Homo sapiens: one gene and its partners. The protein of the gene in region 6 purifies or fractionates together with the protein of the main gene of each other region. This does not show direct contact. Each region holds a gene or a part of one and is shown on either strand. Other genes may lie near its edges.

The links.
Region 1: the proteins of VWA5A (region 6) and ADD3 purify together in Homo sapiens (affinity purification with mass spectrometry; 2 studies listed by BioGRID and IntAct, with this or other methods). This does not show direct contact.
Region 2: the proteins of VWA5A (region 6) and MCM8 purify together in Homo sapiens (affinity purification with mass spectrometry; 2 studies listed by BioGRID and IntAct, with this or other methods). This does not show direct contact.
Region 3: the proteins of VWA5A (region 6) and PBX3 purify together in Homo sapiens (affinity purification with mass spectrometry; 2 studies listed by BioGRID and IntAct, with this or other methods). This does not show direct contact.
Region 4: the proteins of VWA5A (region 6) and PKNOX1 purify together in Homo sapiens (affinity purification with mass spectrometry; 2 studies listed by BioGRID and IntAct, with this or other methods). This does not show direct contact.
Region 5: the proteins of VWA5A (region 6) and BCAS3 purify together in Homo sapiens (affinity purification with mass spectrometry; 2 studies listed by BioGRID and IntAct, with this or other methods). This does not show direct contact.
Region 7: the proteins of VWA5A (region 6) and MAN2C1 purify together in Homo sapiens (affinity purification with mass spectrometry; 2 studies listed by BioGRID and IntAct, with this or other methods). This does not show direct contact.

What each region holds. Positions count from the first base shown.
Region 1 is NC_000010.11:110,006,485-110,010,783, forward strand, and holds the start of ADD3 (gamma-adducin), read left to right. Parts: upstream 1-1,499; 5' UTR 1,500-1,815; exon of another isoform or gene 1,816-2,498; intron 2,499-4,299. UniProt on the Homo sapiens protein: Membrane-cytoskeleton-associated protein that promotes the assembly of the spectrin-actin network. Plays a role in actin filament capping. Binds to calmodulin.
Region 2 is NC_000020.11:5,957,152-5,960,651, forward strand, and holds part of MCM8 (DNA helicase MCM8), read left to right. Parts: coding exon 1-78; intron 79-1,376; coding exon 1,377-1,575; intron 1,576-3,500. UniProt on the Homo sapiens protein: Component of the MCM8-MCM9 complex, a complex involved in the repair of double-stranded DNA breaks (DBSs) and DNA interstrand cross-links (ICLs) by homologous recombination (HR).
Region 3 is NC_000009.12:125,753,873-125,757,372, reverse strand, and holds part of PBX3 (pre-B-cell leukemia transcription factor 3), read right to left. Parts: intron 1-3,500. UniProt on the Homo sapiens protein: Transcriptional activator that binds the sequence 5'-ATCAATCAA-3'.
Region 4 is NC_000021.9:42,981,062-42,984,561, forward strand, and holds part of PKNOX1 (homeobox protein PKNOX1), read left to right. Parts: intron 1-3,500. UniProt on the Homo sapiens protein: Activates transcription in the presence of PBX1A and HOXA1.
Region 5 is NC_000017.11:61,390,591-61,393,331, forward strand, and holds the end of BCAS3 (BCAS3 microtubule associated cell migration factor), read left to right. Parts: intron 1-1,386; coding exon 1,387-1,535; 3' UTR 1,536-2,241; downstream 2,242-2,741. UniProt on the Homo sapiens protein: Plays a role in angiogenesis. Participates in the regulation of cell polarity and directional endothelial cell migration by mediating both the activation and recruitment of CDC42 and the reorganization of the actin cytoskeleton at the cell leading edge.
Region 6 is NC_000011.10:124,135,950-124,139,449, reverse strand, and holds part of VWA5A (von Willebrand factor A domain-containing protein 5A), read right to left. Parts: intron 3,322-3,500; coding exon 3,157-3,321; intron 2,877-3,156; coding exon 2,776-2,876; intron 2,436-2,775; coding exon 2,182-2,435; intron 1-2,181. UniProt on the Homo sapiens protein: May play a role in tumorigenesis as a tumor suppressor. Altered expression of this protein and disruption of the molecular pathway it is involved in, may contribute directly to or modify tumorigenesis.
Region 7 is NC_000015.10:75,362,108-75,365,607, reverse strand, and holds part of MAN2C1 (alpha-mannosidase 2C1), read left to right. Parts: intron 1-942; coding exon 943-1,120; intron 1,121-1,419; coding exon 1,420-1,609; intron 1,610-2,859; coding exon 2,860-2,966; intron 2,967-3,154; coding exon 3,155-3,265; intron 3,266-3,500. UniProt on the Homo sapiens protein: Cleaves alpha 1,2-, alpha 1,3-, and alpha 1,6-linked mannose residues on cytoplasmic free oligosaccharides generated by N-glycoprotein degradation pathways.

The DNA of each region.
Region 1 (4,299 bases), on a different chromosome or scaffold from region 6:
CAGGCTGAGCATTTTCTAAACAATTTTCTTCCTCAAACTAGGCAGCCTTCCCCACGATTCGTTAAGAGTATTTAAAAATAATAAGGCATGGTTGGATTTTTTGAGCAAATGGGAGATGGTGGTAGACTAAAATTTCTACAGCCTTAGTCCAGTGGAGAGAGAAAACGATAAATGCATCACAGTTTGTGTCAAGACAAGATTCATTTTCCACACTTCATATGTGGGAAGAGGAAACTACATTTTAATTAGCACATTTTTAGGGAGGAGGGGGGGGATGAAGATGAGGCGGATGGCGTGAGGTATTTGAGGGGGACGAGTCTGCAGATGAGGAAAGGAAATGAAGTGGATTGTCGCCAGTGCCTTGGAAACGAAGGGGGATAAGGGTGGGGAACGAAGTTTGTTGTGTGTGTTAGGGTGGGGTTGGCCCAAGGGACCATGAATCATTAGAATGGCGCTCGGAGGGGTGTGCTTGCAAGTGTACTGGTGCAGGAGGGACGTGGAAGTCGTGGGTGGCAGAGAAAAGTGTGCACCGCTGGGAGGTCTATTTCAAGAATAGGTTGGGATGAGAAACATGTCTGGGCGAGGGGGGTGGGAGGCCCGGTGTCACCTGTGGATGGATCCACAGCCCTGCAATTGCGTGTTGCAAAGTTTGCCCGGCCCCGCATTCATTTTGAAGGTTCTTGGCGATGCCTCGACTTTTCGCCTCAAAGAAGTGAGCTCTCATAAGGTTCAGAGGCCGGGAGCCAAAGCGGGAGTGAAGACTCTCGAGGGGTCCAAATGAAGCAGAAGCGAGAGCCCCTGTCCTCCCCCTATGTGGAGGTGAAGCAGGGGTTGTGGGGACTAGGCGCCCGCGAAGGCAGCTGTGCTGAGAGCAAAGTCCAGGCCCCACGGGGGGCGTGCGGAGGTTGAACCTTTGCAGTGGCCTCCTACAGCCCCAGCAGCCAGCGTGGGCGGCCGAGGCTGACTCAAAGCGGCGGCTCAGCCTCGGGAGTAGGAGTAGGGGGCTCGCTCATTTAGGGCGGGAGACATTTCCGAGGCGCCCCTCCTCCCCTTCGCGGTCGGGTTTCTATCGGGGTCGTTTCCCCCTCTGGCCCTCCGGGGACGCCGCGGATTCGAGCTGCACAGTCAGAAGAGGACGTTGAAAAGGCGCCAGGCAGCCGCCCCGAACCAGGCCCTCCCGGCTGCCGGGCCTGCAGGCCCCCACCGCTGCGGCTTCACGGACTTAGAGCTTGAGGGCGCGGAGGGGGCTGCGGGGGCGGGACCAGGACTCCCGAGGGGCGCTCGGGGCGGGGCCAGAGAGAGCTCGGGGCTGCCAGAGGCGAGGTCTTGAGGAGGCGGGGCCGGGAGGCTTCGGAGCCCAAGAGGCGGGGCCAGAGGCGTAGGGGGCTGCGAGGGGCGGACCTTGGGGGCGTGACCGGGGGGGGCGCTTGGGGACCTAGGGGCGGGGCGTTAGGGGGCGGGACCAAGGGACGCTCGAGGGGCGCTCGGCTAGTCCCGCCAGAGCGCGAGCCGCCAGCCCGTAACGGTCGCCAGTGTGAGGGGCGGGAGGGAAAGAAGAGGGGTTTAAATTAGATTTTTTAAAACACAGAGCAAGCGCCAGAGGCGTCGGCATCCCAGGTGTCGCCGCTTCCTGCTGCACAGGGCTCGGCGTACAGGTCCCTCCCTCCTCAAGCCCCCTCCCCTTCTCCCGCCCTACCCTCTGGGGCTCTGCGGCGCTTAAGAGGCGGCCGCAGCGGCGGATCCGGCGGCTGCTGCAGCCCGGGCGGCTGCCGAGAAGGAGGGAGGGGAAACACAAAGCCGGCTACGCGCTGCGAGGTAATCTTGCGGGGAGAGGACGCGCCGTCGTCCCGCCTCTCTTCCGGGCCGGGACGCGGGCACCCGCGCGGGGGCTAGCACTGGGGACGCTACTGGGGGTCGCGCGGGGGTAGGGAGCGGCGGCTGGCGGGGCCAAGGGGACTTCTCATTGGCTGTCCCTGCGGCCTCAGGTGAACCCTTTTCCGGGGCGGGAGTGGGGACCACGGCCAGGCCAGAGGGGAGCGTACCTGCGGGGGAGGGTCCGGGGGTGGCGGTGCACGGCCTGCGGCGCCGCCGGGTGGGCCCGACGCTTCGCGCGTCTGCTGGTTTTCCCTAGGAAGGCGGGGAGTACCAAAATCAGTTACTGGCTGAAGCTTAGGTGACCCCGGGGACCTTAAGCCCTGAAGGTGCGCTCCAGGGGAGTGAGAGGTTCCTGCGCTTAGAAAAGGTGGAGGAAAGGGAGCGAATGTTGGTTTTAGTTGTTTTTCTCCTCATTTAAAAAAAATTTTTTTTGTTACAAGTTGAAAGTGTTCAGTCACCTTTCTCCTATAATCCGCTTCCCCACCCCCCAACACAGACACACACAAACACACCGCCCCTACAAACGTATACATGTTAGGTTGAGCTTCCTGCTAGGGGTGACAAGCGAAGTTGGCAGCAGGTCTGGTGTGCTGGTGTTTGGGGCACGTCCAGCCTCTTTGGAGGTAGGCTATTATAGCTTAGGCAAGACCACAGACAGGTAGCATAATCTGGGCCTCTTTTAAAATGGCAAGAACGGCTTCAGGTGAACTTTTTTGTTGCAGAGATTTAATTGCAAGTAGGTGCCGGTTGAAAATGGGAGCGCAAGGAAAACCACTAATTTCCTTGGCACATGTGCTGTTGCAATTAACCTGGTAGAGTGTTAAGGAATTTAACTTAGCCAAGAGGCTTTGAGGGAGGATTATATGCAAGTTTGGGGAAGGAATTGATAAGATTCTGGGGTATGGGACTAGCTACATACACGTGCGTGCAAGTTTACGTTAAATTATGTAGCATTTTAGATTTAGCAGTATTAAATGGTTGCTTTTCTTGGAATGGCTTCTGACTACATAGTGCAGGGTACGTTCCTAATTTTGGCTTTAGAAGACTCCTAGTGAGAGTGTTTTTAAAGATTGAAAAAATAAGAGTACAGTGCAATTTGTCGTTTTCAAGTTAAATACTTGACTGTTAAAAATATTTGTGTAATTAAGTTATGGGACCAACCCATTTATAGGGTTAAGTTACTTAACCCTATAAATAACTGGAACATTATAAATGGAGCATTTGTAGAAAGTTTTTATATCGAAGTCTCCATTATATTGTACTTGCATTATAACTTATTTTCCTTTGCTTAAATGGAGCAGATTAACTTTATGGAAGGAGGACCAGGATAAAATAAAGGCAGCTACATTTAACTCTTCATCTTTCTGAAGAGTTCAGTCTGTGATAACACTTAAGGTGCCCAGAAGTGCTGGCATGTTGGTAATAGTTTTTAAAGAAGAAACGGGTGTATCTATTTTGAATGTTAAACATAATTTGAAGGAGTTCTTGAGATAGTTGGTTATGAGACATTCAATGTATTGCTACATTTTACATATATGATATCAGGAAATGTTTGGTGAACATTTGACATAGTTGATCATATGACACTTGGGAAATATTTTGCATGATAGAAGGATAGTATTTTCGTAATGTAAGTTTCAAGCATTGACTGAAAGGGAGAAAATTACACACTTTGCTGTCTCACCCCTTTCTTCAATATTATGCTGGCATGAATGTGAATTCTGCCTAATTATGTTTAAAGTGTAGATCTGGCCTTTGTAAAACCAGAATGTCTTTTGAGACCAAGAGAACATAACATCAGCAACAGCCCAACTCCTACACACAATCCTAAAACCTAGATACAGGGTGGTGCCCAACTTCTGAGGTTTTGAGGCTTCCTGAAGTAGGCCTATCATGTCTGAGTGCTTTTGTCACATGTAAGCCTACAGGTGGTTAGCTGGTTAATCTCTCCCATTTCAAAGCAGTTGGTTAGCAGTACTGGGTGGCATGTATGCATGTCATCAGAGTATAAGAAGTGTTTGAGGGAAGAAATCACATAAAAGCATAGAAACCTGGCTCTGAACAAACTGTGTAGCGTGTTGGGGAACAGTCACATCAGAACTTTAGCTTAACCGAGTTGTTATATGTAAAGTGCTTAGAATGGGGTTTGTATTCAGTGCTTTTTGTGTTTATCATTATCAGTATGTAAAGTGACATATCTTTTTGAAGGCTGTTAGGTCATGCTACCCAGCATGTGAAGACTCAGCAAATATTTGTAATAGCCAATATTTATTTGCCTAACCTCTGTGCCAGGCACTAAGAGTTTTATATGATTTAATTTACTTAGTCCTTCCAACAACCCAGTGGCTAAACAGAGGCATGGAGAGGTTAAGTATCTTCCCAAGGTGACACAGGTTGGTTCTGAAGCCAGAGTCTGGCCCAAGA
Region 2 (3,500 bases), on a different chromosome or scaffold from region 6:
TGCAGCTGAGTTACAAGCCCAGGAAGGATTGTCTAATGATGGAGAAACAATGGTAAATGTGCCACATATTCATGCAAGGTGAGGAATTTGATGTATTAAAGTATTACTTAGAATGGGACATTGAAGGCCATTTAAGAATGAAAACGCTCATTTTATAAAAATGAGGAAATCAGTAAAAAGGACATGAGTTCCTTGCCATCTCATTGATCATCACACTGAAATAAACTCATTGAAAATTATTCAAAGACATCATGACAGATACTTCCTAAATAAGGAAGAAAATGTTGATTTCCTAACCTGCAGATTTTTGTAAACATTGGTTTTGGATGTGAACTTATCAAGACCCTGCTGTGTAAGTTTAATAATCCATGTATGGGTTGAGTATCCCTAATCTGAAAATCTGAAATCTGAAATGCTCCAAAATTCAAAACTTTGAGCCCTGACACGACACTGAAAGGAAATGTTCATTGGAGCACTTCAGATTTTTGAATTAGAGATACTCAACTAGTAATATTGCAAATATTTGGAAGTCCAAAAATTCCAAAATACTTCTGGTCCCAGGCATTTTGGATAAGGGATATACTCAGTCTGTAATACACTAAGTGTTCTTTGTTAAATTATTAGGTTTTTGTTAGATACAAGGGAATAATGAAATTATTTTGTTTTTCTTGAATTCATCTTTAAGATTTTAAATTCATTAGAAGAATTCATTATAAGGTAATCATCAGCATTTTGTTTTTCTTTTCCAGAATTTATAGAAGAAAATTTCCTAGCAGTTCTTTAAAAAGAACTTAGAAACCCAAAGGTTTTTGAATCTGTAGATTTTCCTTTTGGCATTATTTTTTTCCTTAAATTTCTTTTTTCTTTTTTCCTTGAGAACAGCCTGTGAGACAAGAAGAAAAAGGAAGATTTAGTGTTGTTTCTTGTTAAGAATGGTTTGGCTGGGCACGGTGGCTCATGCCTGTAATCCCAGCACTGGGAGTCCGAGGCAGGCGGATCACGAGGTCAAGCGATCGAGACCATCCTGGCCAACATGGTGAAACCCTGTCTCTACTAAAAATACAAAAATTAGCTGGGTGTGGTGGCACACACCTGTAGTCCCAGCTACTCGGGAGACTGAGGCAGGAGAATCACTTGAACCCGGGAGGCAGTGGTTGCAGTGAGCCAAGATGGCACCCCTGCACTCCAGCCTGGCAACAGAGCGAGACTCCATCTCAAGAAAACAAAACACAACAAGAATGGTTTAATTCTTGTGATATTTCTGATATATCGAAGGGATGATTTGATTTGAGAATTCCATAGTTGCTCCTAAAAGGAACTTGTGAAAATATAAAAAACATCAATTTTCTGTTCATTACTTCCTGTTTTGTCTTTAGGGTGTACAACTATGAGCCTTTGACACAGCTCAAGAATGTCAGAGCAAATTACTATGGAAAATACATTGCTCTAAGAGGGACAGTGGTTCGTGTCAGTAATATAAAGCCTCTTTGCACCAAGATGGCTTTTCTTTGTGCTGCATGTGGAGAAATTCAGAGCTTTCCTCTTCCAGATGGAAAATACAGTCTTCCCACAAAGGTAATACGTTCTTTAACTGCTTCTTTATTTATCTTGGTAAAGAAGGCAAATCAGAATACAGAAAACATTTCCCAGTGTTTCTGAACACAGAGCTTATTTTTATTTTTTATTTTCAATTTTCTGCTTTTATATTATGAAATACTTCAGGGTAAGAAAAATACAGAAATAAATAAAACATTCCACTACTCATCACCCCGAATTTACATTTTTCAGCTCCGGACACATTTTTTAATGATATAAAGCATTACTGGCACAATTAGTGTCTGTTTTTTACCTATACCATTCCCAGGGATGATCATTATCCTGAAGTTATTATAATATGCATCCCTTCCATTCATATTTCTGTTGACTTCTAGGTATACACACCAAGTTTTTTTTCCCCTTTATTTCTTCTACTATTTAGAAGTGATGGGTTTTTTAAATCTTTATTAGCCTTTATTAAACTGGATTTTAAAACTATAGAAAAGTGCAGAGAATAATGTAATTAACATTTATCTACTCTATGATTTGGCAAATATTAATATTATTTTAGCTTAATTTGTAACAAAAATATGGTTATATAAAGTTGAAGTCTTTCTGTTCTCAGTTTTATTCCCTTTATTTGCTCCCTAGATGCAACCACTATGCTGAAATTGGCATGTATTCTTCAAGTTTACATTTTTATTCTTGACTACATGTGTAGAGTTAGTTTTTTGTATTGTGTTTACGTAAATGGTATCCTGAATGTAACACGCAGCTGTTTTTTTATTTGGTTATTTTGTAGTTCTACCTATTTTAATACATATCAAATTCTTTCATTTTTACTATTGTGGAGTGTTGCTTTAAATAAATAGCCACAATTTATCCATTTTCCTGGAGGTAGACAATTGTGCTCTTTCCAGTTTTTTATAAGAACAAATGATACTGCAGAGAACATTCTTGTACATGTCTCCTTAGCAGAGGAATACTAAGTTGTAGGCTGTACTTTTTTTTTTTTTTTTTTTTTTTTTTGAGACGGAGTCTCGCTCTGTTGCCCGGGCTGGAGTGCAGTGGCGCGATCTTGGCTCACCGCAACCTCCGCCTCCTGGGTTCAAGCAGTTCTCCTGCCTCAGCCTCTCGAGTAGCTGGGACTACAGGCACGCGCCACCATGCCTGGCTAATTTTTGTATTTTTGGTAGAGACAAGGTTTCACTATGTTGGCCAGGCTGTTCTCAAACTCCTGACCTGGTGATCCGCCTGCCTCAGCCTCCCAGAGTGCTGGGATTGGCCGGCTGTACTTATTTTTAACTGTATTAGATGTTACCAAATTACTTTCCAGAGTATTGTTCCCAACTTAAATCTTTGCTGGTAGTGTTAAGTAGTTACCATTTCTCTGTCTTTTCATTAACACTTGGTATTGTTAGACTTGTACATTTTTGACAGTTTGTTAGGTATAAATAATACTGCATTTATAATGTGAATTTTTCTGATTTCTGTTGTGGTTGAGCATCTTTTCATATCTTTACTGGCCATTCAGTTTCTTTATCGAATTTTCTATTTATATCTAATGTTCATTTTCCTGTTTATTGGTTTATTCTTTAATTTTGTTTTTTAGAGATGGGGTCTCATTCTGTTGCCCAGGCTGGAGTGTAGTGACATGATCATAGCTCATTACAACCTTGAACTCCTGGGCTCAGGTGATCTTCCCATCTCAGCTTCCCACGTAGTTGGGACTACAGGTGCCAGCCACTGTGCCTGGTTCTATTAGTTTATTGATAGGAGTTCTTTATACATTCTAGATACTAATTATTGTTGATTATATACATTAGATATTTTCTCCCAGTCTTTGGTTTGTCTTTTAACTTTGTGGGTTTTTTTGTTGTACAGTTTTACATTTTGACATGATCAAATTGTTGTCTTTTCCTCCCTAATTTGTATATTTTATGCCCTGCTTAAGAAGCCGTTCT
Region 3 (3,500 bases), on a different chromosome or scaffold from region 6:
ATCAATTTCCTGCTCTAGTTCCTATTCCAAGTTGAAAATGATATATCTGACTATGAATTCCAACAACCTTCACCTGTAGTTTTTTTTTTAAAAAAAAACAATGGTGGGAGGAGAAAAGAAAGAAAAATGAAACTTGTAAGACCACCTAAGTCAATTCTTCCTCATTTAAGGACACTTGGATAGTAAAGGTAAGATGCACATTTAAGCTTGCCATTTCAAATATATATATTTTTTAATGCAATGATTTCCTCCCCATCAAATGCCATTCAAGAATTTCATAAGTCCTTCCCAATAATTCCTCTATAAATTATTTGCAGGGCTTAGTACATCTGAAAGCCTGTAGAAACCTTTGTTTAAATAATAACATGCAATTTCAAAAGCTTTTTGTTCCCTTTTCAATCAAAAATAACTTCATATGTTTTAAATGAAATTTTGCAAGTAATCAGAGACTAATGAGGATTCACTGATTTAACTAGTTCAGGGAATCAGAGAAGGGAGTGAGAATTTAAAGTAACCAAGTGTTTCATTTAGAAAAGCAGCTAATGTGGTAGGTACACTAAAAGTCGTCTTCACAGCGAAATGTAATCAGGACTTTTGTCTCAGGAGAAACTCATCCTCCTTTCTGTGCACATTCGTAACTCACATTACCATTAACAGGCATCACACATGCACACCGAAGAGATGCCTGCCTTGGTAGTATGCATGCATGGCAGCTGTGGTGACTAAATAATCCACATGGCTCTGAAGAGAAGATATGGTTTACTGGGTCCAGAGTCACAGCTACAGTGGTGGAATTCAGACACTTGAACTAAACCCCAGTAGGAATGCCTTACCCAAACCCTCTTCCTTCTAACCATACCCAGCAAATACAGTTAGGCCAGGATTTTGCAATTCCATCCTCTATGCATGGTTTATAGATAGAAGTTCCATGTTTGAGTAAACCTTAACCTTCTTGTAGGCACAGAAGGTCTGTCTTCCTCCCTTTCCCCACAGCAATCCTAGTATTCATTCATGTATTTCTCCCCAGAATATAAGAAATATCACAAAATAGCTTTATAGAGAAAAATTCAGAGGCCTAGCTTAGGCCACAAAAGTCAACAAAATCTGAATCCAGTATGAAATTCCATCTTCCACACAAAATGTCATCAGTAATCTTACCTATAAGATATATGCTGAAATATAAATTCCACAGGTTGTATAAAGGGCAGTTTAACCATGAATTATAATTGTTACAGCTTTTATGGATTCAAGTCAGAATGTTAATACTCATTTAATATAGTTTTCTGAAGCCCAATTCAACTTCTTCCTTCCTTCCCTAGTGAAGAAAATATCCTTGTGAAGTTCAATTTAGTGACATTGGTGCACAAGCCCATACACAGAAGTTTACACTTCTGAGAAGAGATAAGTGATAAACAGTTCATTAGCCATGTTAATGAAATTATGTTTTAGGAAAAAAAAGACTAGGTGACACAAAAATTTTAGTATATTTTTATACAGAAACATTACAATAAAAACTTTATATTCAGTATCTCCAATTAGGTCAATTAATATTCAGAAAAATCCTGTAACATTTCATTTAAATAATCATAGGAGGGGGAAAAAAGAATCCACCAATGTTCTGGAAGCTTCTCTAGACCTTTCAATCAATTTTATTTATATGCAAAACCAAGAGAAACTCAAAAAAAAAAAAAAAAAAAAAACAAAGCTCCTCCTGATGCTAAAGCTCTCAATTTACTGACAGGCAAATGGCTTCATGCTGCCACTTAATCTCATTTCTTGCATAATGCCCTCTAATTAGCATATCAAAGTGAATTAATACTTCTAGGGCATTAGCAATGGGGAAATCTGCTCCAGGCTCACAATAGCAGTTAAGAGAGAGCCAAGAAATCCTCAAAAACACCACAAACCACTTTGCATTGCAAAACTGTTCAATTTATTTATCCTCTCTCTCTAAACACTTTTACCGCACACTGTTTTACTACTGTTCACCAAACAAAATGATAATTGCCAAAGTTACCAGCATCTGTAATGCCTGTTTAGAATCTTAATTTAGACTGTTGCAGATAATTTCTATATGCAACCATTTGTTCTATTATAAATGTTAATATAGAGACAGTGAAAATGTTGACATTCTCAATTAGTTAATTTGAATTTGAAATAAAATTTTATGGGATTTTAAAATTTATGAATTTTTTAATGTAAAAAGCCACCTGCTGGACTCTGAAGCCTAAGAAATATGCTTTGAAAACTGATGTATCACATAAAAGAAAACAAAACAAACAAAAAATCATTTTGCCATAACATGTTGAGTCTCACAAATAATGGTTTAAACATTGTGAGGACTCATCAGCATTAAAAGGATTACATTGTATACCAAGTCCTCATTAATATGATCACTAAAAAAGAGTTATTGTCTAAACAGCTTAACATTTTTAAAGCACTTAAGTTGAAAGAAGTAGAAAACTTTTAACAATTATTTTTATCCATAAATATTTTTAATTGCTTTCATACTAACCTGTTACTATTACGTAGACAGTTATACAAAAAAAGTTACGCCAATTCAGTTTGATACATTCTATCACACCAATTTTTTTGCTAGATATACACTCAAATTTAGTGCCAAAGTAAACTAGTTACCATTAAAACCTACAAACATATTATACTATGGAATATATCTATGAAAAAATAATACAGAAGAAATTCTTGTTGCAATTCTGCCTACAAAAGGGATAATTAGAATCAAGTGTTGAAGATTAATGAAATTTATTTTTTAATATGTTCTGAGTTTGAAGGCATAAAAAGGTGGTTTATTTTTTCAGTAGCTCATTCAAGAATTACTTATTATTTGCTAAATATAGCACTGTCAACTAGATGTGATAGCAATTTGTCTGATTAACTTCAATAACTTTGTAAAAAATCAGATAGCTAGTTCTGAAAAACTTTTACCAATTTATACTACATAGTGATATAAATTATTTACTCTCTTCATACTTGAAGACTCAAATGGCCTACTGAAGTAGAGCAAATGCTTGAAAAGGTCAACACGGGCTTGAGGGGGAGGTGGTGGTAATGTGTAAGCTTTGTTAGTCAGTTAATACCTAAATCATGCTGATCACACTGATAAATGGCTAAAACACAAGACTGCTGAGAAAACAAAACATTATTCTCATAATGTCAATATTGAACTAATAAATATCTAAAGATGTTCACAAACACGAATAGGGAAAAGATAATCTAAAACCTTATATAACTTGATGTGTTAGTGCTGATGTGTTAAGCATTTATTCTAAATAGATACCTCAGGGTAGAGTACAAAATAAAGTGATGACTGACTTAGGGTGTGGTTCACGAAATGCAGTTTCAATTCTTATAGTCCCACTTCATATAATGTAACTTCATCCTATACCATGCCACTATAAAGTATCAAAATATAAATAATCCAACTAATACGTTAATTTAAATTTGCCTCAGAAGTAACCTTTTACAAAATTTATAAATTG
Region 4 (3,500 bases), on a different chromosome or scaffold from region 6:
TGAGGGTGAAGGAAGTGGCTGCAGGCCCTGGGAAGTACCATCTTGCATCCGTGTGCAGCACTGAGTGGATACCTCATGGTTCTGTCTTGTGTACACTGTTCAGGAGGACATGTAGAGTGGACATATCACATAGAAGAAGGTCAGTCTGGAAACTGTTAGGAGAAGCACTCAAGGGCTGAGAGGCATGGTCCTTGGTGGAAAGAGCCAGCAGGCCTGGTGCTGGCGGTGCCCTGCTCGTGACAGTGTGCAAAGTCTGGAGCCTGGCCTGTTCCCGCCCTTGGCAGATGGTAGCTCCTTGTTTTGGATTATTAGCCCCTGCCGGTTTAGTTACTGTTTCTGGAAGATTCACATAGAAGGCAGTGTGGTAATTCAGTCAACGTGTTGTCTGGCATGTGGTATAAAACTCCTGTTTAAAGCTCTGATTCTGAGGCCATGCCTCAGGGACTTGAGAAGGGGACAGAGCAGCTTATTTTATTTTATTATTTATTTTATTTAATTTTAATTTTATTTTATTTTGAGATAGGGTCTCACTTTTTCACCCAGGCTGGAGTGCAGTGGCACGATCTCGGCCCACTGCAGCCGGGAGCTTCTGGGCTCAAGTAATCTTCCCGCCACAGCCCCCAAAGTAGCTGGGATTACAGGCACGTGTCATCACACCCAGCTAATTGTACTGTTTGCCGTCTGCGATTGACGCTGGAATGATTGGCTGTTTTAGTCGGGTTCTCAGGGTGGCAGGGAGCAGGCTGACTTCAAGTTGGGTGGGTGGTGAGATAGGTGGTTCAGGATCATGCAGGGATAAAGAAAACAGGAGTCTATGGGATTCTTGGGACCACTGTATTGTTGCTGGGCCTCTGGGCAGATGGAACCATGGTTTGTGCTCTGGCAGGATCCAGTTCTGCACCAGGGCTCTTGGCCTTCCGCTTCAATTAGGTGGTTGCCCTCCACTGTCTGTTCCATCTGTACGCTCCCCTCACAGTGGGGGCTCACCCAGCCTTACCTGCCCTGTACTCTCCCTTTTCCAGCACCCACCTCAGAGAGAGTGCCTGTGCTCTTTCCCCTCACACCACCTACCAGGCGCTGACCTTCGGGCTGGGGGCTGGCCTTGGGTGTTGCAGGGCTACCTGGCCCAGGGAGTGGTGCTTGGGGAGGAATGAGCTTCTGACACCTGCACAAGGAAGGCCCCCTTTGAGCAGGGCCTGCCAGTGGGGTTGGGTCACTCAAAGGGGCTGTGGATTGGTAGGTACTATGATCACAGTTTCCAGAACATAATGCCTGAGTGAGCGCATGTGTTTTGTTACATGTTCTCTCAGACATTTTATGAAGGTTTGTACATTTTTTTGCATTAAAAATGTTAGGAATTTAACTTGACAAGAAAAAGGAGCATAAGGCCGGGTGCAGTGGTTCACGCCTGTAATCCCAGCACTTTGGGAGGCCAAGGTGGGTGGATCACCTGAGGTCGGGAATTCGAGTCCAGCCTGAACAACATGGAGAAACCCTGTCTCTACTAAAAATACAAAAAATTAGCCGGGTGTGGTGGTGCATGCCTGTAATCCCAGCTACTTGGGAGGCTGAGGCAGGAGAATCACTTGAACCCAGGAGGTGGAGGTTATGGTGAGCTGAGATCGCGCCATTGCACTCCAGCCTGGGCAACAAGAGCGAAACTCCATCTCAAAAAAAAAAAAAAAAGTTTAATAAACATTAAATTGCTAAACTTTACGTTCTTCTAAATTTAGTTACGTATTTGAGCATACTTTTTTTTCCCCCACGAAACAGGGGCTTGCTCTGTTGCCCAGGCTGGAGTGCAGTGGTGCAATCTTGGCTCCCTGCAACCTCTGCCTCCCGGGTTCAGGCAATTCTCCTGCCTCAGCCTACTGAGTAGCTGGGATTACAGGTGCCCACCACCACGCCTGGCTAATTTTTGTATTTTTAGTAGAGATGGAGTTTTACCATGTTGGCCAGGCTGGTCTCGAACTCCTGACCTCAGATGAGCTGCCCACTGTTGCCTTTCAAAGTTCCAGGATTACAGGCATGAACCACTGTGGCTGGCCTTTTTTTTCCAATTTTTTGTTATGGTAAAATACACGTAACAAAATTTACCATCTTAACCATTTTCAGTGTGCAGTTCAGTGGTGGTAAGTTCATTCATACTTTTGTACAGCCATCACCACCATCTGTCTCCAGAACCCTTCATCTTGTAAAACTGAAACTCTATACCCATTAAACACTGCCTCCCCATCTCCCCTCCCTGAAGCCCCTGGCAACCACCATTCTACTTCCTGTCTCTGAATTTCGCTACTATAGGGACTTCATACCAGTGGAATTAGGTAGTATTTGTCTTTTTGTGACCAGCTTAGCTCATTTACCATAATGTCCTTAAGGTTCATCTATGTTGTAGTGTGTGTCAGAATTTCCTTCCTTTTTAAGGCTGAATACTCCATTGTGTGGATATACTGAATTTTGTTTATCCATCCCTCAACAGACACTTGAGTTCCTTCTACCTTTTGACTATTTTGAATAATAAAACTGTGAACCTGAGTGTGTAAATACTTCTCCGAGATCCTACTTTCAATTTTTTTGGATATAGATCTAGAAGTGGGATTGCTGGATCATACTGGAATTCTGTTTTTAATTTTTTAGGGAACCTCCATCCGATTTTTCGCAGCAACTGTACTGTTTTATATTCCTTTTAATTTAATTTATTTTTTATTTTTCCAAGGACTCAATAAGGAGAGAGTATCAGTTTACATTCCTACCAACAGTACAGAGGTTCCAGTTTCTCCGTATCTTACCCAACACTTATTTTCTTATGTGTTGTTGCTTTTTTTAATAGCAGCCATCCTAATGGATTTGAGGTGGCATCTTACTGTCATTTTGATTTGTATTTCCCTAATAATTAGTGATGTGGAGCATCTTTTCACATGTTCATCGGCCATTTACATGTCTTTGGAGAAATATCTCTTCAAGTCCTTTGCCCCTTTTTGAATTGGGTTTCTTACATGCATACGTGTGTGCGTGTGTGTGCGTGTGTGTGTGTGTGTGTGTGTGTGTTTTAAAGAGACAGGGTCTCATGATGTTGTCCAGGCTGGTCTCCAACTCCTGGGCTCAAGTAATCCAGTAATACTCCTGCCTCAGCCTCCCAAGGAGCTGGGACTTAAAGACATGGGCCCCTGTGCCTGGCTATGTTCATACGTTTTTACATATTTTTTAAGCTATATTGTGTTATGCTTTTAGTTGGCATTTTAGTGATTTTTAAAACATTTATATAATCCACACATTTCTCGTTTTAAAAATTTAAGGTCTCATACACTTTTGTGAGTCCAGTTTTTTTCTTTTTCTTTTTTTTTGAGACAGAGTTTTGCTCTTGTTGCTCAGGCTGGAGTGCGATGGCATGATCTTGGCTCACCACAACCTCCACCTCCTGGGTTCAAGCAATTCTCCTGCCTCAGCCTCCCAAGTAGCTGGGATTACAGGCATGTGCCACCCCGCCTGGCTAATTTTGT
Region 5 (2,741 bases), on a different chromosome or scaffold from region 6:
TCCTCCCCACTCCACTCTGTGGCTGCTGCAGGCCTGCAGGGAGTCGGGGTCAGTGGTTCGTTGCTGGCTGGCTGGTGTTGGCCAGCCCAGGAGTGAAGGCCATGACCCCTTCATTCCCTAACCAGAGCCGGCTGTACTGCGCGTGTGGTGGCAGGGGGCCTGGGAGCGGTTGCAGGATGAAGACCAAGGTCTCAAGCCAGACCAGACGAGTGCAACGTTTTTGCACATCTTGCTGTTTCAAGTGACTGCTTTGAGGTCCTGCACTCCTGGGTGGACAGGCCAGACTCCTTCAGTCACAGGCAGGCATCCCTTGGAGAAGGAAAGGTTGCAGGTCTACATATCTTGGCTTGGGGCAGGCTCCAGAGACTGCCCGGTGTGTGTGTGCCCATATGTCAGAGCCCCCGGGGGAGACTGAAAGGGAATCGGAACTGACCACCTTCAAAAAGCCAAGAAGTAATTGGTTCTTCCTTGCACTCAGCAAGCAGGGAATTCCATTCCCAACCCACCTACCCCAGGACCTGACTTGGGTCAAGAGATGGTAGGACAATTGAGCGGCCCACAGCTGAATTAGATGGATCAAGCTGCCATATCTGAGGTGGCAACATGGATGTGCAGGGCCAGGGAGGCAGAGGAGGAGGAGGGCGGGACTCCCTGCCTGCCCTTCAGGTTGATGCTGAGGGGCCTCCAGGAGACTTGGGGCCTAAGAGGAAAGGAGAAAGGAGGCACTTCAGGCAGACAGGGACCCTCTCTTCATTGGAGCAGGCCCCTCTCAAACCAGGCATCCCCTCCCAGGGAAACAGGACACTTGGCAGGAGGTGCCAAAGATGAGCCAAGACCTGGCCAGCAGATGGACTGTGTGGGTGAGCATGAGTGAATGAGTGAGTGGCAAAGCCAGGCAGAAGCTCTAGGCACAGGCAGGGCAGGAGAGAGGTGGGGACAGATCAGGCAGGGATGCTGCAAGCCCTCCCGTGTCCTAGCTTCTCCCCGCCTGCCTCCCCTGTAGAGCCGGGACAGAAGGCACTGTGGAGTTGGGGGCATGCTGGCTGAGCATGAGTGTGTGCAGGCGTGGGTACGGGCTCATGAAGAGCTGTGTAGTCCACACACATCGTCAGGGTGGCCGTGCTTCGGGCCTAAAGGGCTTCCCGCAGCAGGGAGACGGTGCTCTCACACCAGAGTCTGCCAGCCAGGGGGCTTTCCCTCCCCTGGCTGAGCCTTCCTGTGACCTGAGCTGCCCCCTGCCCATCCAGGGAGCAGGCGGGGATCCCCCTGCGGAAGGACACAAGTGAACCCAGAATGGTGCCTCAAGGCAGGCAGCCTGGCCCAGATGGTGCCCCCACTCCCCAGACCCAACTCTAACCAGGCCTGGCCCTCTCCTGTGTCTTGCAGAACTTCAGCGAGAGGGAAGCATCGAGACTCTGAGTAACAGCTCAGGCTCCACCAGCGGCAGCATACCAAGAAACTTTGATGGCTACCGATCTCCGCTGCCCACCAATGAGAGCCAGCCCCTCAGCCTCTTCCCGACTGGCTTCCCGTAGGTACCAGCAACCTGCTTCTGACTGGCCAGCCCCCTCCCCTGCTGGAGGAGGGGAGAAGCCCCGCTCTGGTCCTACCCTTCAGTCTCTGCTCTTCCTTCATCAACCACCTTCCCCAAGCTTAGTGACAGCAGCCGCCCATCCTACCTGGATGGAGAAGAGACCCTTCTCCAAGCACCTCAGCGCACTTGCCCTCTGCCACACCTGTCGGTGGAGGCTGTGGCCAGGAGAGACTGTAGAAGCTCGGTCCCTGTGTATGTTTGCATATGACATCCTGCATTGGATCCGCTTTTGTATTTTTTAACCATACCCACGGTGGGGCGGGTGGGGGGAGCCTGGAACAGTGACCAGATCTGGGGGCCTGAGTGGGGACAGAGTTGATCGTCCACCTGGCCATTTTGACCCTGAGTGGACAGTCACAGCCTCAGCTCATGTCTGGCTGTGACACACACTGCCCCCAGCTTCCCTTGGTCAGCCCCACTCCAGCACGGGGTGAACGGAGGCCCAGAGTACTAGGGAAGGAGGAAGGGAGGACATGCCTCTTCTTCCTCCTTTCTTTCCCCATCTGTTCATGGGAAGAGTTTGTCTTTCTTATCTTTAAGCCCCTTTACCCTGGTCCTGTACTGATCAGTGAAGGAAACCGTGGTTACTGAGGCCCTGTTGAAAAGTGCACGTCTTGTCCAATAAATCACGCTGCAGTTGGTGTCCATCCCTGAGTTGCTGGGGTAAGGGTCCTCTCCAAATGCTGAGCAGAGTCCTATGGCCTGAGTGCCCAGGATCCCAACACCCCCTTTCATGTGCAACTTGGGGGCAGAAGGAGTCAGTGGAGGATTGGAATGGGAAGAACTTTTGTCCTGGAATTTGGATGGGGCCTGATTTAAGAAGCCCATTCTCTAAGCATCTTGCCTGTTACCAGAGGCAATGAGTTCTTGGGGTGCCACAGGGTTGGACCCTCCTCCCTGGGGATCAGGGCTTGCCATGTGCTGGTGGGTTGCTGTCAAGGGGAGAGTCTGGCAAAGCCTCATCTGGGGGGCACCTTGTTGTAATTGCCTCTTTTTAACTCAGAAGATGGAAGGGTGGTCAGGTGAAGGTGGGTATCTCATGAAACCTGGCCGGAACCCTCAGATGACACGTTCCTGATTTTGTCCCCCCGCCCCACCACCACCACTTCCGGACCTAAAGTAAGTGGCAACAGAGACAGGAACAGGG
Region 6 (3,500 bases):
ACAAATAAATGTAAAGATATCTCATGTTCTTGGATTGGAAGAATAAATATTGCTAAAATGGCCATAATACCCAAAGCAATTTACAGATTCAATGCAATACCTATGAAAATATCAAAGACAACCTTCACAGCATTAAAAAATCGTAAATTTGTATGGAATTATAAAAACATAGTCAAAGTAACCTTGAGAAAACACACACACACACACACACACACACACACACAAACAAAATGCTGGAGGCATCATACTATCTGACTTCAAAATATACTACAAAGCTATAGTAACCAAAACAGCATGGTACTTGCATAAAAACAGACACTGACCAATGCAACAGAAATGGAGAGCCCAGAAATAAATCCACACATTTACAGCCAACTAATTTTTGACAAAAGTGCTAAGAACACAATAGGTAAAAGACAGTCACTTTAATAAATGGCATTGGGAAAACTGGATACACACATATGAAAGAATAACATTAGACCCTTATCTCTCATCACATAGAAAAACCAACTCAAATGAACTAAAGGCTTAAGTGTAAGAGGTGAAACTGTGAAACAACTAGAAGAAAACATAAGGGAAAATATCTATGACATTGGTCTGGGCAATGATTTTTGGATATGACCTCACAAGCACAGGCTACAAAAGCAAAAAATAGATAAACGAGGTTACCTCTTGTGTATAGCAAAGAAAACAATCAACAGGGTGAAGAAACAACCTACGGAATGGGAGAAAATATTTGCAAACCAAACATCTGATAAGGGTTTAATATATACAAAGTACAGAAGGAATTTAACTCAAAACCAAGAAAGCAAATAACCTTATTTAAAAATGGACAAAAGACTTGAGTAGACACTTCTCAAAAGAAGACATACAAATGGCCAATAGGTATATGAAAAAATGTTCAGCATTACCAATCATCAGGAAATTGCAAATCAAAACCACGATGAGATATCACCTCATACCTGTCAGAATGGCTATCATCAAAAAGACAAAAGATAACAAGTACTGGTGAGGATATGGGGAAAAGGGAATGCTTGCACACCATGGTGAGAATGTAAATTAGTATAGCCATTGTGGAAAACTGTGGCTCCTTAAAATGTTAAAAATGGAGGTACTATATGATCCAGCAATCCCACTGCTGGATATATACCCAAAAGAAAAGAAATCAGTAATATCAAAGAGATATCAGCACTATTCACAATAGCCAAGTCATGGAATCAACCTAGGTATCCATCAGTGGATGAATGAATGATGAAAATGTACTATATATACACAATGTAACATTATTCAGCCATAAAAAAGAACAAAATTCTGTTATTTGCAACAACATAGATGAACTTGGAGAACATTATGTCAAGTGAAATAAGCCAGCCACAGCCTGGATAAAATGGCAAAACCCCATCTCTACGAAAAATACAAAAAAATTAGCTGGGCATGGTGGCATGCACCTGTAGTCCCAGCCACTCAGGAGGCTGAGGTGGGAGGATTGCTTGAGCCTGAGAGGTTGAGGCTGCAGTAAGCCATGATTGTGCCACTGCACTCCAGCCTCGGCAACAGAGTGAGACCCTGTCTCAAAAACAAAGAAGGAAAATAAGTCCAGAACAAATATATAAAGACAGGATAGGCAAATGTATAGAGATAGAAAGTAGGTAAGTGATTACTGGGACTGGTGGAGAGGGGAGTGGAGGAGAAGATAGGTGGGGTCAGGGAGAGAAATGGGAAATGTCTGTTAATAGTTATGAAGTTTATTTCTTAGGTGATGAAAATGCTCTAAAATTGATTGTGGCAATCAATGGTTGCACAACTCTGTGAACATACTAAAACCCATTGGACTGTACACTTTAAATGGGTGAATTGTATGATATTTGAATTATATCTCAATAAAAAAGATAAATCAGCTTCAGATTAGGCAGTTTGGTTACTCAGGGTTTACCTGCACTTTCTACATTTTAATGTTTGTTTTTTGTTTTCTCTTGGATTATTTTAAATCTCCTTGCCAATGGGATGCATTCTAGTTCCCTGGGACAGAAAAATTTAACACTAACCAGAAATCCTAGATGTGGAGGTATAAGGAAAACAAAGCAATTTGAGAACATTTCACAGCCCTTTCCTTTAAATAATGTGCTCAGATAGTCAGAATCTTTTATTCTATATGAGTTTGAATGGAATAAAACTCATTACCTGATTGGCATTTTATCTTCAATGGGGCAGAAGCACCCAACAGAATTGGCCTTGGGACGTCCCTATGAGCCAGAGGCCCCTGAACCGGCTTGTTGAGCTCCTTATTGATAGCAATGAAAGCTGTGAAGGAGCTTATGACACCAGACTCAAGGCTAAGGTTCAATGCATCTTTTTTATCACTTGCTGGAGTCTCCCTGAGGCCCATGTCCTTGGTCTGGAGCAAGGACTTGGCAGCAAGGCGGTGAATGGTGAGGCTGAAAGGAAAAAAAAAAAAGTACTGAAATGTAGGGAAAGACATCCATATACCAGTTTCTCAGGGCTCCTAAAAGTTAGGAATAGAAGAGTTAAGATAAAGTCAGATAAGGGGAGAGAGAAGACTTGGGTGGTTTAGAAATAAAAAATGATTGTAGGAAAACAATTACAATGGAGCCCAGAATTAAGAGAAGAAATCTAATCCCCAAAGATGGCAGAGGAAAGAAGGAAGGAAGGAGGGAGGGAGGGAGGGAGGGAGGGAGGGAATGAAGGAAGGAAGGAAGGAAGGAAGGAAGGAAGGAAGGAAGGAAGGAAGGAAGGAAGGGAAAACTGAATTCTCACTTGACATCAGGCTTGGGTTGTAGAGGAAATGTCACCTTATCCTCAAAAGTCTTGCCCTGGAGTGTATATTTGAGGCATACTTCTCCTGTTGTCTCTGCTGCCTGCAAATTAGAGATGAGTAGAAATGACGGAACATGTAATGTTCTGATCATCCATGGAAGGATCAGAACAGGGGCAGGTACCCAAAACAATGTATGAAAATATCTGATGAAGAATCAGGTAGCCTAGGAAACCGGAGACCTGAAATGATGGGAAGGAAGTAGGCTAGCTATACTTGGCAAGTGCCGTCTCTGGCTGAGATTGAAATCCACCTACCAGCTTTAGTGGAATGGTCATGTGGTAGCTCTTTGACTAGAGGAACAAATAAGAATGGGAACTCACTGGCATCCTCCCGGTCAGCTGGGCATAGCTGATTAATCTCTGACCCCTAAAGATGACAGTCTGTTCTGGGGAAAGCATTTTAGCAGACAGACCAGGAGGCAAATGCCAGCTCAGAGAGACATCCTCTACCACAGGCTGCAGAGAGCGTTTCAGAGTCCTGAGAGCCTAATGTGGGGAAGAGAACAGAATAAACACAAATGATACAGACAATGGCAGCTACAATTAACTGGACATTTATTATGTATCAGATGTGATACATAATACATGTCATGCCTACTCCTCAATACTATTCTAGGAGATGGGCTTTATATATGAAGAAGCTTTGCATATGAATAAGCCAAAGC
Region 7 (3,500 bases), on a different chromosome or scaffold from region 6:
ATTACAGGTGCCCACCACCATGCCCAGCTAATTTTTTGTATTTTTAGTAGAGACGGGGTTTGACTCTGTTGGCCAGGCTGGTCTCAAACTGCTGACCTCAGGCTATCCACTTGCCTGAGTCTCCCAAAGTGCTGGGATTACAGGAATGAGCCACCGTGCCCGGCTCATCCCGGTATAGTTTTTACTAGTTAAGATTGTATCCTGACTTCTTACATTCCATGTTATAACATGGACATTTTATGACACCATTAAAAACACTTCTTAGACATTATGAATGTATTTTATATAGATTGACACTGTTTCAGATGCTTTCAGACACTGGGAGTATGGTGGTGAATAAAATAGCCCTTGCCAACAAAGGGAGACAGATTCACTCATATAATTACAAAACTGAGGGCTCTGGAAGGAAATCCTGGGTACTCCACTGAGGAATTTGCTCTAGACTTAGCAGCGAAGTGGAGTCAGGAAGGCCTCCCTAAGGAAGTCGTGTTTGCTCTCTGAAGCCTAAGTATGGCATCACCACAGCCCAGCCTGTTCTCCAATGAATGGCCCGCCCATGTTGGCCGTGTTGGTTTTAGATCTTGGGTCTAAAAGTTTGAGCCTGGGAGATCCGAACATGATTTTAATATGCAAAGAGGGTTCCAAGACCAAGGCAGTGCTTTGCAAAGACAACTTTGGAAATATAAGACTAAACAGCAGCGTACTTTACATGGTTCCAAACTTTGCTACTTATTCTCTCTGACAGCAAGACATGGGATCCATCTGGTGTTTGTACCACAACCCTCCCACATGCACTCTTGTCACACTGTGGGATCCTCTGGGTAGTGGATCCTGGAAGCAGACAGGTTGGGCTCAGCTGGATGCCTCCTGGGTGCCCCTTCCCCAAGTCCCCGGAGTACTGTGCCAGTCCCTTAGCCTGAGGCTGTCTCCCCATCTTTGTAGCCTCACTCTCTATGTGGAAGTAGCCTGCAATGGGCTCCTGGGGGCCGGGAAGGGAAGCATGATTGCAGCCCCTGACCCTGAGAAGATGTTCCAGCTGAGCCGGGCTGAGCTAGCTGTGTTCCACCGGGATGTCCACATGCTCCTGGTGGATCTGGAGCTGCTGCTGGGCATAGCCAAGGTACTTGACACCCCCTGTACCCCCTGCTACCCTCTAGAGCCCTGCTCCAAGAAGGTTGTTCTTTGGGTCAGATAAATGGGACTCTGGGAATCCAGAGTAGGACGAGGGTTTCCACCTGCTTGAGGGTTGAGAGAATTTTCCTATGTGAAGGGGAGGAGGGAGACGGTGCTGAGCAGGGGGACCAGCAGGGAAAAAGGGTTGGGGGTCAGGGGAGCTCTGCTGAGAGCCCTGAGATCAGTGGAGCCTAGGTCTGGAAGCTGTGCTTGAAAAAGGGATTAAGGGGCAGAACCCTGCTGCAGGGCCTCGGGAAGGACAACCAGCGCAGCTTCCAGGCCCTGTACACAGCCAATCAGATGGTGAACGTGTGTGACCCTGCCCAGCCCGAGACCTTCCCAGTGGCCCAGGCCCTGGCCTCCAGGTTCTTTGGCCAACATGGGGGTGAAAGCCAACACACCATTCATGCCACAGGGCACTGCCACATTGATACAGGTAGGACAGCAGCTGGTTGGGCTGGCTGGGGAAGCAGGAGTGCCCTTGAAGACCTGGATGTGCCCTAGAAGCACTGTGTGATGCTCAGCAAGTTCTTGCTCCTCTTGGACCTGCGTTTTCCCCGTCTGTAAAACGGGGCCGGGGGGCTGGACTGTGGGCTCTGCTTGCTTTGGATTCACTTTTTTTTTTTTTGAGACGGAGTCTCACTCTTGTCACCCAGGGTGGAGTGCAATGGTGTGATCTCGGCTCACTGCAACCTCTGCCTCCCGGGTTCAGGCGATTCTCTTGCCTCAGCCTCCTTAGTAGCTGGGATTACAGGCACCCACCACAATGCCTGGTTAATTTTTGTATTTTTAGTAGAGACGGGGTTTCACCACGTTGGCCAGGCTGGTCTCAAACTCCTGACCTCAGGTGATCCGCCTGCCTTGGCCTCCCAAAGTGCTGGGATTACAGGCATGACCCACCGTGCCCAGCCTCATTTATTCTTTCAACAAAATCTGATGCCTCATGGGGCCCATGCTAGATATTGAGGGTAGGATTACAGAGACAGATTCAGCAGGCAGAGTTGGTGTCACAATGGTGGGGAGTCTGAGGCACTGGAGAGCACAGGAGAGGTACTTACTCCAGCTGGGTTGGGGGATTCCAGAGAGGCTTCCTGGACAAGTTTGCAGTGTCTGAGTTTTACGGGAAATCCACATTTTTAACAAGCTCCTGAAGGTATTGATTCTGATGCAGCCGAAGTTTTGGGATCACAGAACAAGGGCTTTCTCTGCTGTGCCAAGATGTAGGGTAAGGTGTGAGAGGTTCTGGGCTGGTAAGGGAGGAACTGCAGCCTGGGAGTCAGGAGAGGCTGTAGCACCTCTGGTAGGACAGCTGGCTCCATCCTGGGAGCCATGCCTCTGTTCCCAGGTATACATCAAGTTTGTGCAGGGGCAGGGTAGTCCCTGCTACTTCTCGTAGGATCCTCTAGGGGATGTCTAATTCCCCAAGAGGACTGAGGCTATTCTGGGGCCTGGAGCCTCCATTTCCTGACCTGTATAATTGGCCTCATAGCACTGCCGCCTCCTTTCCCCAGCCCCTCCTCCCACCTCGCTGGAGTGAAGTGAAGTGACCACTTAGGAGGGACACCACAGGGCTTTCCAGGGTGAAGGGCCTGGGATGGGAGGGGGGCTAGGTGACCCTCTGGAGTCCCAGCCCAGGCCTGGTCAGCCTTGCTGCTCCCTCTGTCCTCCACCTCACTCCCCGTATAGCCTGGCTTTGGCCCTTCAAAGAGACTGTGAGGAAATGTGCCCGGAGCTGGGTGACCGCCCTGCAGCTCATGGAGCGGAACCCTGAGTTCATCTTTGCCTGCTCCCAGGTCAGAGGGACAGCTGTGAGGGAGGAGGGAAGCACGTGGCCCTCCCTGGAGCTCCACAGGCCCTGAAGGCTTCCCAGGCCTGGGGTCAGGGCTGCTCCTCACCCTCAGCCACACACTGAGTCCCATATGCTCAGTCCTGGGTGGGGCCCTTGTCACTCTGGTCCCAGCTCCCTTCAACCTGCCCACAGGCGCAGCAGCTGGAATGGGTGAAGAGCCGCTACCCTGGCCTGTACTCCCGCATCCAGGAGTTTGCGTGCCGTGGGCAGTTTGTGCCTGTGGGGGGCACCTGGGTGGAGATGGTAAGTGCACTGGGCACTCCTCAGCCTTGAACTGTATGACAACAGCCTTCCCTCAGGTAGCCCCGCCCTCCCGGCTTTGCTGGTGAGTTTCCACGGGCCACTCATCCCCGCTGTGTGGCAGGGCTGGCTCATTAGTCCCTGGGATCTCAAGGCCTGGGACTTCAAGGGGGAGGAGAGCCTCCAGCGCTGTGACAAGTTGCATGGCCTAGTCCTGGGCACCCCCTCAGGCAGATGG